Linked DNA regions of Homo sapiens: regions 1 and 2 are each reported to be linked to region 3. Evidence: microRNA targets listed by miRTarBase, many of them from high-throughput screens and not tested one by one. Region 3 holds a microRNA gene; each other region holds the end of a gene's coding sequence.
What was found. Region 3 holds the annotated microRNA hsa-miR-3167 (AGGAUUUCAGAAAUACUGGUGU, at 1,465-1,486, shown strand). A microRNA usually pairs through its seed, bases 2 to 8, with sites in the 3' UTR of a target mRNA and lowers its output. Matches are read on the target gene's strand: a 7mer-m8 pairs with bases 2 to 8, a 7mer-A1 pairs with bases 2 to 7 and ends in A, and an 8mer does both.

Region 1: miRTarBase lists VPS4A as a target of hsa-miR-3167. Seed matches in the 3' UTR shown: 7mer-A1 at 2,743-2,749.
Region 2: the mRNA of ALG1 is a reported target of hsa-miR-3167. Seed matches in the 3' UTR shown: 7mer-m8 at 1,556-1,562.

Annotation. Positions count from the first base shown.
Region 1 is chr16:69,323,759-69,327,105 of GRCh38, reverse strand. It overlaps VPS4A (vacuolar protein sorting 4 homolog A), which reads right to left. Exons shown (of 11, transcript NM_013245.3): 11 at 167-2,898. The coding sequence ends at 2,797. COG8 (component of oligomeric golgi complex 8) reads left to right here. Exons shown (of 6, transcript NM_032382.5): 6 at 1-678. PDF (peptide deformylase, mitochondrial) reads left to right here. Exons shown (of 2, transcript NM_022341.2): 2 at 1-193. Among named protein-coding and RNA genes, the nearest start is that of PDF, 5.2 kb to the left of the region's middle.
Region 2 is chr16:5,084,602-5,087,601 of GRCh38, forward strand. It overlaps ALG1 (ALG1 chitobiosyldiphosphodolichol beta-mannosyltransferase), which reads left to right. Exons shown (of 13, transcript NM_019109.5): 13 at 149-2,778. The coding sequence ends at 280. It overlaps EEF2KMT (eukaryotic elongation factor 2 lysine methyltransferase), which reads right to left. Exons shown (of 8, transcript NM_201400.4): 8 at 1-1,131. The coding sequence ends at 1,031. Among named protein-coding and RNA genes, the nearest start is that of EEF2KMT, 12 kb to the right of the region's middle. RefSeq lists an enhancer at 1-539.
Region 3 is chr11:126,986,607-126,989,953 of GRCh38, reverse strand. It overlaps MIR3167 (microRNA 3167), which reads left to right and starts at 1,412; the gene lies at 1,412-1,496. All of the region lies in intron 1 of KIRREL3 (kirre like nephrin family adhesion molecule 3), which reads left to right.

The sequences.
Region 1 (3,347 bases), not on the chromosome of region 3:
TGTAGAAAGCTCATAGATGCTAAAAACATGGGTCTTTAGGAAAATTAGAATTCAGCTGAGCCTCCTTTCATTTGGACAATGTTCAGAAGCTCTTACAGGGGGCTATGGCAATCTTTTGATGCTTCTTATAGCTTTCTGAGGTTAACGCTTTTGTGGTGGGCATCGGTAGCAATAAAATGCAAACTTTATTGCATTTCCAGTAAAATCTCTCCCACTTTGAGCAGGAAGCACTCACAAAAAACGCATATACATGTCAACGTTGTGAGCTCATCAGAGTTTTAGAAATCAACTTCCACAGTGAAAGCCAATGTAGGCAGAAGGTTTATAACAGAATCCCCAGGCAGAGAAGTGAATTTCAGAGCATTTCAGGGAGGAAACTCCTCTGCACATGTCAGCATGTTTAACATCGATGATGGCAGGTTGTGTGCTGGCAGCCAGAGTCTGAGGCCACTGTCCAAAGTTCAGCGTCAGTGGTTCCTGTTGCTGGTCATGGAGAGAGACAACTGGAAAGTCAGGTGTCTTCACGCTCTAACTAGAGCACAGGGATGGACCATAGCCATGCTAACCTTTGTTAACCCCTAGGACTTGTCAAGGTGTTTAAGCAGTAGGAATGAGGAAACAACGTTCTGATTCAAGTAAATGTAACTAGAAGTAAAAATTTAAAAACTTGTAAGCTCACTAAAGTGAAGCTCTGCAGACACGGTTCATATCCTGGTGGCTGAGGGCACATAACCAAGAACTTACACAAGCACCCCCAAGCCACAAAGATCCCAGCTGCTATGGTTGAGGGGTAACCTGCCAGCACTGGAGCCAAGTGTTGGAGCTACTGATCCAAAGTTAGCTCACTTCTGCAGAGGCTCTGAACCAGAGCAAAGAAATGGCCCAGTGCAAGCCCAGTGTGAGCCAAGAGTTGGCCATGTAATCAGTTCTGGCCCAACCAGGTTTGAAAGGTAGAGGAGCAGTACTGGGTTTTGGAGAGGGAAGGTTGGAACAAAGCCCTTTGCAGGCTATAAGCTTCATTTACTAGGCCAGGTCTTTCTGTGTGAATGTGCTTTGACTTTGGTCTGTTTATATGCATGGGGTAAACGTGGGACAGCCTCTGCAGCTTCACTGCCTGCCGGACGTGGGTCCAGGGCTGCCAGCTCTGGGTCCTTGGTCTGTTGGGGGTCGCAAACTGAAATGGCCATGGGGCTATCTGGGCAGGCAACACAGATGAGTGGGGATGGGGGACCCCTTCTGTACAGAGCAGCCTCTACTTAGTGGCCGCTGACAGGCTGCCCCATGAGGACGCAGGCCCAACATTACCTAATTTAATCTTCTAGAAGTCAGAATTCTGAATTTTTATGTCAACTCTCGACTTTTTTTTTTTTTTTGAGACAGAGTCTTGCTCTGTCGCCCAGGCTGGAGTGCAGTGGCGCGATCTCGGCTCACTGCAAGCTCCGTCCCCCGGGTTCACGCCATTCTCCTGCCTCAGCCTCCCAAGTAGCTGGGACTGCAGGCGCCCACCACCACGCCCGGCTAATTTTTTTATTTTTAGTGAGACGGGGTTTCACTGTGTTAGCCAGGATGTTCTCGATTTCCTGACCTTGTGATCCGCCCGCGTCGGCCTCCCAAAGTGCTGGGATTACAGGCGTGAGCCACCGCGCCCAGCAACTCTCGACTTTTAAATGTTAGCGGCCCAAAGTGCTGGGATTACAGGCGTGAGCCACCGCGCCCAGCAACTCTCGACTTTTAAATGTTAGCGGCAGACCAAACCAAACAAACACAGCTGCAGGACGGGTCTGGTACGCAGGGCTCCCACTTTGCAGTCTCTGATCTGTAGGCCGAACAACGGCAAGAACTGTCTGGATCCCACAAACATCCCCAGCCAAACTTCTGAGGCCTTAAGGGGAGGAGGCCTTGCACACCTGACTGGAGAACAGGCCTAAGAACTGCAGTGTTCTGTTTCCTGCTCTGCTTTAGAAAAGAGAGGAGACAGAAAACCAGAGGGTCTTTTAATTGGAAGCAAGGGTGGCCCTTCAGAGTCTCAGTTAAGAGTCAAGGAAAGATGAGATCACTTGGGTAGCTCAAGAAGGGAAAAGGATTTATTAGACCATTTCCAGGACAGGGACCCAGGGGCAGTGGCTGGGTTCAGTGTTCTCACGCTCAGAGGAAGAAAAGGCAGTGGTGAACACCCGCCTGACTGCCTTACCCTGATCTAAACGACACCATCTCCTCCCCCAAGGAAGACACAGCCCTGGATGTGAACCTAGGAGGGTGGGAATGGCTTATGTCACTCGGTCTTTGAGGCAGAGCTTGGGCTGGGGTTGCAGGGGCATCAGCCAATCTGCTCTCAAGGAGCAAAACTTGGGCGTAAAAGGAACGGGCAGTGGGGCTAGCCGGCTGTCTGGAGGTCTGGGTGACCTGGCAGCACGGCTGCTTCTCCCCCGCCACCCCGCCCCACTCCTTGACACTTCCAGGTGATTTTATCTTTATAAATAAGATGAAAATCCAAGCAGCATTAATTTAGGGGAACAAAAGATGGAAAAAAAAGGGGGGGAGGCAGAAGGAGCTGATGAGCATCCAGGAGAGGAGGAAGTAGGAAGAGCAGTGTCCACTGTGTGCCCCAGGGCAGTGGAGTGTCTCTGTGGCTGCAAGGCCCTTCCTTCTGGCTCCCTGGCAGACGGCCAGACAGCAGAGGGAACTCTGTATTGACTGGGACAAGCCCTGGAGCCCTGTCTGGCTGTTGACATGGGGAGTGCCTGGATTTGCCCCAATCAACCTCCCACCTTCACCATTGCCCAAGTGAAGCAGCTTTTAACTCTCTTGCCCAAAGTCCTCTGAGAATTTCTTCACTTTCAGGAGGTCGTCTGCATTCACCGTGGGCCGGGTGGTGGCCAGAGACCGCAGCATGTCCGACTGTGAAGGCAACAGTATGTGCCTGAGCAGGAGCCAGGCTCCAGGTCCCCAACCTCCCCTCAGCACACAACAGGCGCAGCTGAGGGTGGGAAGAGGTTTGCCTTCAAGGCCACCCCAGAGGCCTGCTTGAATCTGCCTATGGCAGGGACCCTCTTCCCTCTCGAGGCAGCTCAGATGGGCCTCCTCCTGGTCTGAGAATCTAAGCTCCATCATCTCATAACTCCCCTTACGAACTTGCTTTCTTTTTTTTTTTTTTTTTTTTTGGAGACGGAGTCTGTCACCCAGGCTGGAGTGCAGTGGCATGATCTCGGCTCACCGCAACCTCCACCTCCTCGGTTCAAGTGACTCTCCTGCCTCAGCCTCCCAAATAGCTGGGACTACAGGCACGTGCCACCACACATGGCTGATTTTTGTATTTTTAGCAGAGACGGGGTTTCACTATGTTGGCC
Region 2 (3,000 bases), not on the chromosome of region 3:
GGGTGTGAAGGGTCTCGAGTCCAAGTGAGGGAGTTAGGGACTTGGGAGGGGTTGTTGTTGGGTCGGGGACCTGGGGTCAGCCAGGTGGTGACCTGGGATGGGGTGGGGACAGGCAATGAGGTAAGCTCTGCTCTTTATTTTTTTGCAGATGCTTTTCTCAAACTTTCCTGATCCTGCGGGCAAGCTAAACCAGTTCCGGAAGAACCTGCGGGAGTCGCAGCAGCTCCGATGGGATGAGAGCTGGGTGCAGACTGTGCTCCCTTTGGTTATGGACACATAACTCCTGGGCCAGAGGCTAAAACCCCAGGACCCCTGCTGTCCTTCCCGCAGCTTCTTCTTGGAGTCTCAGGGCAAACCCTTTCGAGCAGCACCTCCCAGTGGCCAGAAGCTGAAATGACAGCAGTGGTACTGCCTGGTAAAAGAATTGGTTCTGTGACCCGGGAAGCTTTGGTTGGCCTTGATTTCTTCTCTGGAGGCTTGGAAACGCTTCCTCTCTTCTTCTGTTCTTCACGCCCCATGCCCCTGCTAGCGTATTACTGTTCTGTGACTTCCCTGTGACCTCTGCAGAACTCCTCATCCTGCGTTTGGTCTCCAGGTGTCCCCTTTCTGCCGTGTTCCTAACATTTTGATTCCTGTCTTGAAAAAAGCACCTGCTGCACCGTAAGCCCAGGGATGTGGCAGCTGCAGTGGGCTTGGCTTTGTGAGGAACTGAGTGTGTCCACGTTGGGGGAACATCATACTTGATACACACGTTTTTATTTGCACAAAGAAAATGCTATTTTTGGAGCCAGAATTTTCATGTCTGATTTATGGTGATTTTCTTAAGAACCAGAACTGCTGGCAGAAAGGGGGCACCCACACGCTTAGATAGCCGATGTCTTATTAGAGGGCAGTTTGTGGTTCCTGATTTGGAAATTAACATTCTCCAAACATTCCAGTCCAATGAAAGTTTTATCCGCTTTCCCATATAAAAATTCTTCCCATGAGAGTGACTTGATTCTCACAATCCCGTTGGAGTCGTGTGTGAGTCCTACAGGGTGAGATTCAGCATTGCCATCTCCAAGTGCTCTTCGTAGGGAAACAGTTTCTGCTCATGACGAGGTTCCACTTCCCATCTGATCCCGGCCCGGCCTGGAAACAGAGCACATGTGTTTGAGGATGGCGGTGTTTGGGGACAGGACATGAGGGTATTGTGTGGGGCTGCTAGGACAGGCCTGGCGGGGTAGGGGGGTGTCCAAGTCAGTTTACTTGGTTCACAGGTTCCCAGGCCCACCCAGGTGCCTAGAATTGGCCTCCAGGATGGGACCAGAAAGCTGGTTTTGCATAGAAATGGCTAGCAGCAGGCACCGTGCCGCTGTCCACTCTCTGCCTGTGTCTGCCCCAGCACTTGGCACAGCGGGACAGAAGCAGAGATCTGAATAGTCAACCCACTCTTCACAAAGCTTAGAAAGCGGCCGGGCACAGTGGCTCATGCCTGTAATCCCAACACTTTGGGAGGCCAAGGCGGGCGGATCACTTGAGGTCAGGAGTTCGAGACCAGCCTGGCCAACATGGTGAAATCCCATCTCTACAAAAATACAGAAATTAGCCAGGCATGATGGCGAGTGCCTGTAATCCCAGCTACTTGGGAGGCTGAGGTGGGAGAATTGCTTGAACCCAGGAGGTGGAGGTTGCAGTGAGCTGAGATTGTGCCACTGCACTCCAGCCTGAGTGACAGGGTGAGACTAAGTCTCAAAAAAAAAAAAAAAAAACCACACGCACCACACACACACCCACACACACACACAGCTTAGAAGGGGCTGCTGTTCTCATAAGCACAGATGTCTGAAGAGCCGTTAGCCAGAATGATTCTTTTTTTTTGTTTTGAGATATGATCTTGTTCTGTCACCCAGGCTGGAGTGCAGTGGCACAGTCATTGCTCACTACAGCCTCGACTCCTGGGCTCTAGCAATCCTCCCACTTCCTGAGTAGCTGGGATGACAGGTGCGTGCCACCATGCCAGTAATTTTTTTATTTTGTAGAGATGGGGTCCTGAACGCATGGCCTCAAGTGATGCTCCTGCCTCAGCCTCTTTTATTATTTGTTTTTAGACGAAGTTTTACTCTGTTCCCCAGGCTGGAGTGCAGTGGCACAATCTCAGCTCACTGCAACGCCTCCCAGGTTCAAGTGATTCTCCTGCCTCAGTCTCCCGAGTAGCTTTGACTATAGGCGTGCACCACCACGCCTGGCTAATTTTTGTGTTTTTAGTAGAGATGGGGTTTCACCATGTGGGCCAGGCTGGTCTTGAACTCGACCTCCCGTGATCTGCTCACCTCAGCCTCCCAAAGCCTCAGCCTCTTACAGTGTTGGGATTACAGGCGTGAGACACTGTGACCCGGGACGATTTTCAATCACAGTTTTTTGTTACGAGTGGAAAATGCGTATTTATAAGAATGAAGTAGTACAGACATGAATGTGTAGAAATCTCTATAATCCTGCCATCCAAGGATGGCACCTGTTAATGTGTATATCAGGGATGTCCAATCTTTTGGCCTCCCTGTGCCACACTGGAAGAAGAAGAATCGCCTTGGGCCACGCATAAAATACACTAACACTAGCAATACCTGATGAGCTAAAAGAAAAAAAATCACAAAAAAACCTCGTACTGTTTGAAGAAAGTTTACAGATTTGCGTTGGGCCGCAAGTTGGACAAGACTGCTATATGTATATTCTAGGTTTTCCCCTATAGGTATACTTATGTGAAAATGATTATTGTGATAAATTTTGTTTTGAGATGAAGTCTCGCTATGTTGCTCAAGGTGGCCACAAACTCCTGGGCTTAAGCCATCCTCCCGCGTCAGCCTCCTGAGGAGTTGGGAATATAGGTACTCATAACCATGTGTGGGTGATTATTATTAGTTTTTAAACAAAAATGGGGTTGGGCGCAGTAGCTCACGCCCGTATTCCTAACACTTTGGGAGGCTGAGGCGGCAGATCACTTGAGGTCAGGAGTTCAAGACC
Region 3 (3,347 bases):
TTCATTATTCCTGATCTCCTGGGCAGGCTGTGGAGGTGCTACTCTGTTTTCACCTCTGGATGGTATTACTAATTTCCAACAACACCATTATAAAAAACCACCACGGGCCATGGCTGTTTGAACATCCTTCCAGGCAAGATAACTGGATCCTGGCCACAGGCCCTGGAAACAATGGCCTTCATGCTGCAGGAGAGACACCGGGGGAACCCTGTTGGCCCTAAGACTTCGTTCCCCTGTTGGCCCTAAGACTTCGTCATGCCTTTCTTTACCTCCAAGGGGATGGCGGCTCACCTTTTTTGCCACTTGATAATTGTGACGAGATGTGTCTGAGATCCCGAGTTGATCCACAGGCAGCGTGAACTAAGATAGCGGGAATAGAATGAAGGAAAGGTGCAGCCACCATGGGAACAATCCACTCCCTTGTCTGGTCTGCAGCCTGAGTGGTTGGTAGAGCTGGCGGTTTATGTTACCTTTGGCCTTTCATTCAGTTTTTCTGAAGTTGCTGGAGGGATTTTCTATACGGTGTGCTGAGACCCCAGCAGCTTCCCTCAGCTGACTCACCATCAGAGTCCCTTGCCGCTCTCTCTGCATCAGGGTGAGCTGCCACTGCCCCCTTCGTCCCCACAGTGCCAGCCTTTCTGGGCAGTGGAGTTGGGCTGAAGGCAGGATTGCTGTCTTCATTTTACTGATAGTTCTACTAGCAAATTCCAGGTGACTTCTTCAGCATCTCTTGTAGAAAAGAAAACTTTTTGCATAAGTTTTGCAAAACCTTACTTCAAACTGCAGAGTTGATGCTACAAGGGTAGAAGAGGAAACATAGAGCTGCATAGTTTGAGAATTTACTGAAAATAATGGGGACTGAGCTCCTCCTCAAATTAAAAGATGTTATACCAACGAGGTGTTTGACCTTGGCCCTGCTGTCCCCCGACCCCTTGATTTGGCCACTTTTTCCCTTTCTCCTTTCACCAAGAGCTGCGTTAGTGTTTTGGGATACCTTAATAGAAAGCTGAACTGAGGAGGGAGGAGAGTGGTGAGAAAAAAAAATCAAAACCTGTAATGGTTTCAGTGTGCTGGCCTCAGCATGTTTCTCTACCCCCGAAGCCTTGTGATTGCTGAATGGGGACCAGCCACGGGGAGATGGTACTGAGGCCTGTGGCCAGGCCCACTGCTGAGTTTTGCATGCATTCCCTTATTCCATCCCCTAGCAATCTAATAAAGTAGGGATCCTTAGACCCATTTGCCGATGAAAACTACTGAGGCTTAGACAGATTCGGTAACTTGCCTGAAGGTCATTCGACTGGAGAGTCAAAGACCTGCCAATCAAACACCCTTGTGCAGACCCCTTACAGCCCTTGCTGCTGCTCCATTCAGGAGCCACCTCCAGGCCTATGCCCACCTGTGCCCTCGACACGGCTGTGGAGGCACCAGTATTTCTGAAATTCTTTTTTCTGAAATTCTTCAGGAAGGATTTCAGAAATACTGGTGTCCCGACAGCCGTGTGACCATCAGCAAGCCACAGAAACCCCTGCCCTGGCCGGTGGGTCCCCTCCTTCATAGCTTGTAGGATTTGGGACGGAGAGCTGATAAAAATGGAAGAAAACCTCTTCCCCCAAACAAAAGCTGAGTAAGAATTTGAGAAGCTTTCCTCCATGGCTAGCGACTGCTCTCTGCCTCCACAACCCACTTCCAGTATAGCTTAACATTTTGAAAGCCAAATGCTGATTTCTTTAAAAGAATTCATCATCACCCAGCTTCCCTTCAGTGGATTAAGAAATAAATAAATAAATCCCATTCTGCTTAGGGAGAGTTGAGCCTTGTGGTAGCTGTGTGCTGGAAGAATGGAGCTACTCTACATAAAAAGACTTTCCAGAACTTCAAAACCCTCCTTTTCTGTCAAGTCTAGAATAGTAAAAATATCAGGAGATTACGTGTTTCTGAAATGATTAATAATGGTTATTAGGGGGAAATAAAAAGACTCTTAGAATGTAGGAGAGCCTGAGTGTCATAGAGCCTATGATTCTTTTCACTTTGGTCTCGGCTGGTACAACTTACCTTGTGTCAGAAATCATTTTAGAAGATGGCACATGTCTACCCAGGCCATGCTTAAAATTGTAATATTGGTTTAAGATAGACACTTATGATAAACTAGCAAAACATGAAAGTTCTTTGACGTTTTCAAAGCTCCTTTAGATCGAATCAGAGCAATACAGAGGAGGAATGCAAGGAAGATAGATCTCTGCATAGAATACTTCAAATGCCTTCTTTTTACTTCAGTGGGACATGCCGTCATATCAACAGAGCCTTGGCAGCTGATGCCTGGGTTCCAAATCCATATCAATGCTCCTTTCTCTGGGCATGAGCTTTGTTTTGGGTGTTCTCTTCATCAGATTGGGACAGAGGTTTTTGCAGAGAGAAATCCATACTTTACAGGTGAAAACAGCTGAATACTGGAACTGGTCAGAATCAAGACATACCAACCAGAAAATCTGAACACTTACCTCTCCTGTTTGTCTGTGAAAATAACAGGAAATCTACCTTTCACTCTTATTATCAACAGATATTCTAAGATCCATGCCATTGTATTCATGCCAAGGAAAGTTTGAAAATACATAGACGGTTGTATTTTTTAGTTAAATTGTCTTAGTCTTGTTCATTGTTGACTTTATGCGTACTATAGACTCTGCTAGATTTGCTCACTCACAATTGCAATGGAAAAGGAATCTTTGTGGGTCAGTGTATCCCCTTAATTCTAGGTGTAGACTCCCTTTGCGTGTTCCTGACAGGTAATTATCTCACATATCAAGGAAGTATTAGGGTCTTTCTATGGTTCCTGGGTTATCTGAGTTCGTAGATTCTCTATCACCGTGGTTCTTCAAGTGTGGTCTGCAGGTCAACTTGGAGATTGTTAGAAATCCCCATTTTTGGACCCCAGTCCAGACCTTCTACATCAGAAGGGTTTTGACCAGCAGCCTGTGTTATACCGAGCCCACCAGCTGCTCCTGAGGCCTGCTCAGCTTGGAGCACAGGTGCCATCAAGGCTGAGTCTTGCTTCCTTATGGTGTCCCCTCATTTTCACCTCCATGTGGACACTGCTGATAGTAAGTCTACAAGGGAGTCGAAAGTCACTTTCTAACCAGAGAATTTAAGGTGACTCGTGGGAGCTGCCTCTCATGTTTTCATGTTACATCAGGAATCGGGATCTGTCCTGGGCATAAGAAGCCAAACTTACGATAAGGTCATACCTATGATGTGGAACACAGCAGCTATGCCAATCCGTCACTGACATCATTGCCTTCCTCTCACAACTGGAAAGAAATCAAGAGTGCTTCCTTTCAGCAGGGCTTTCC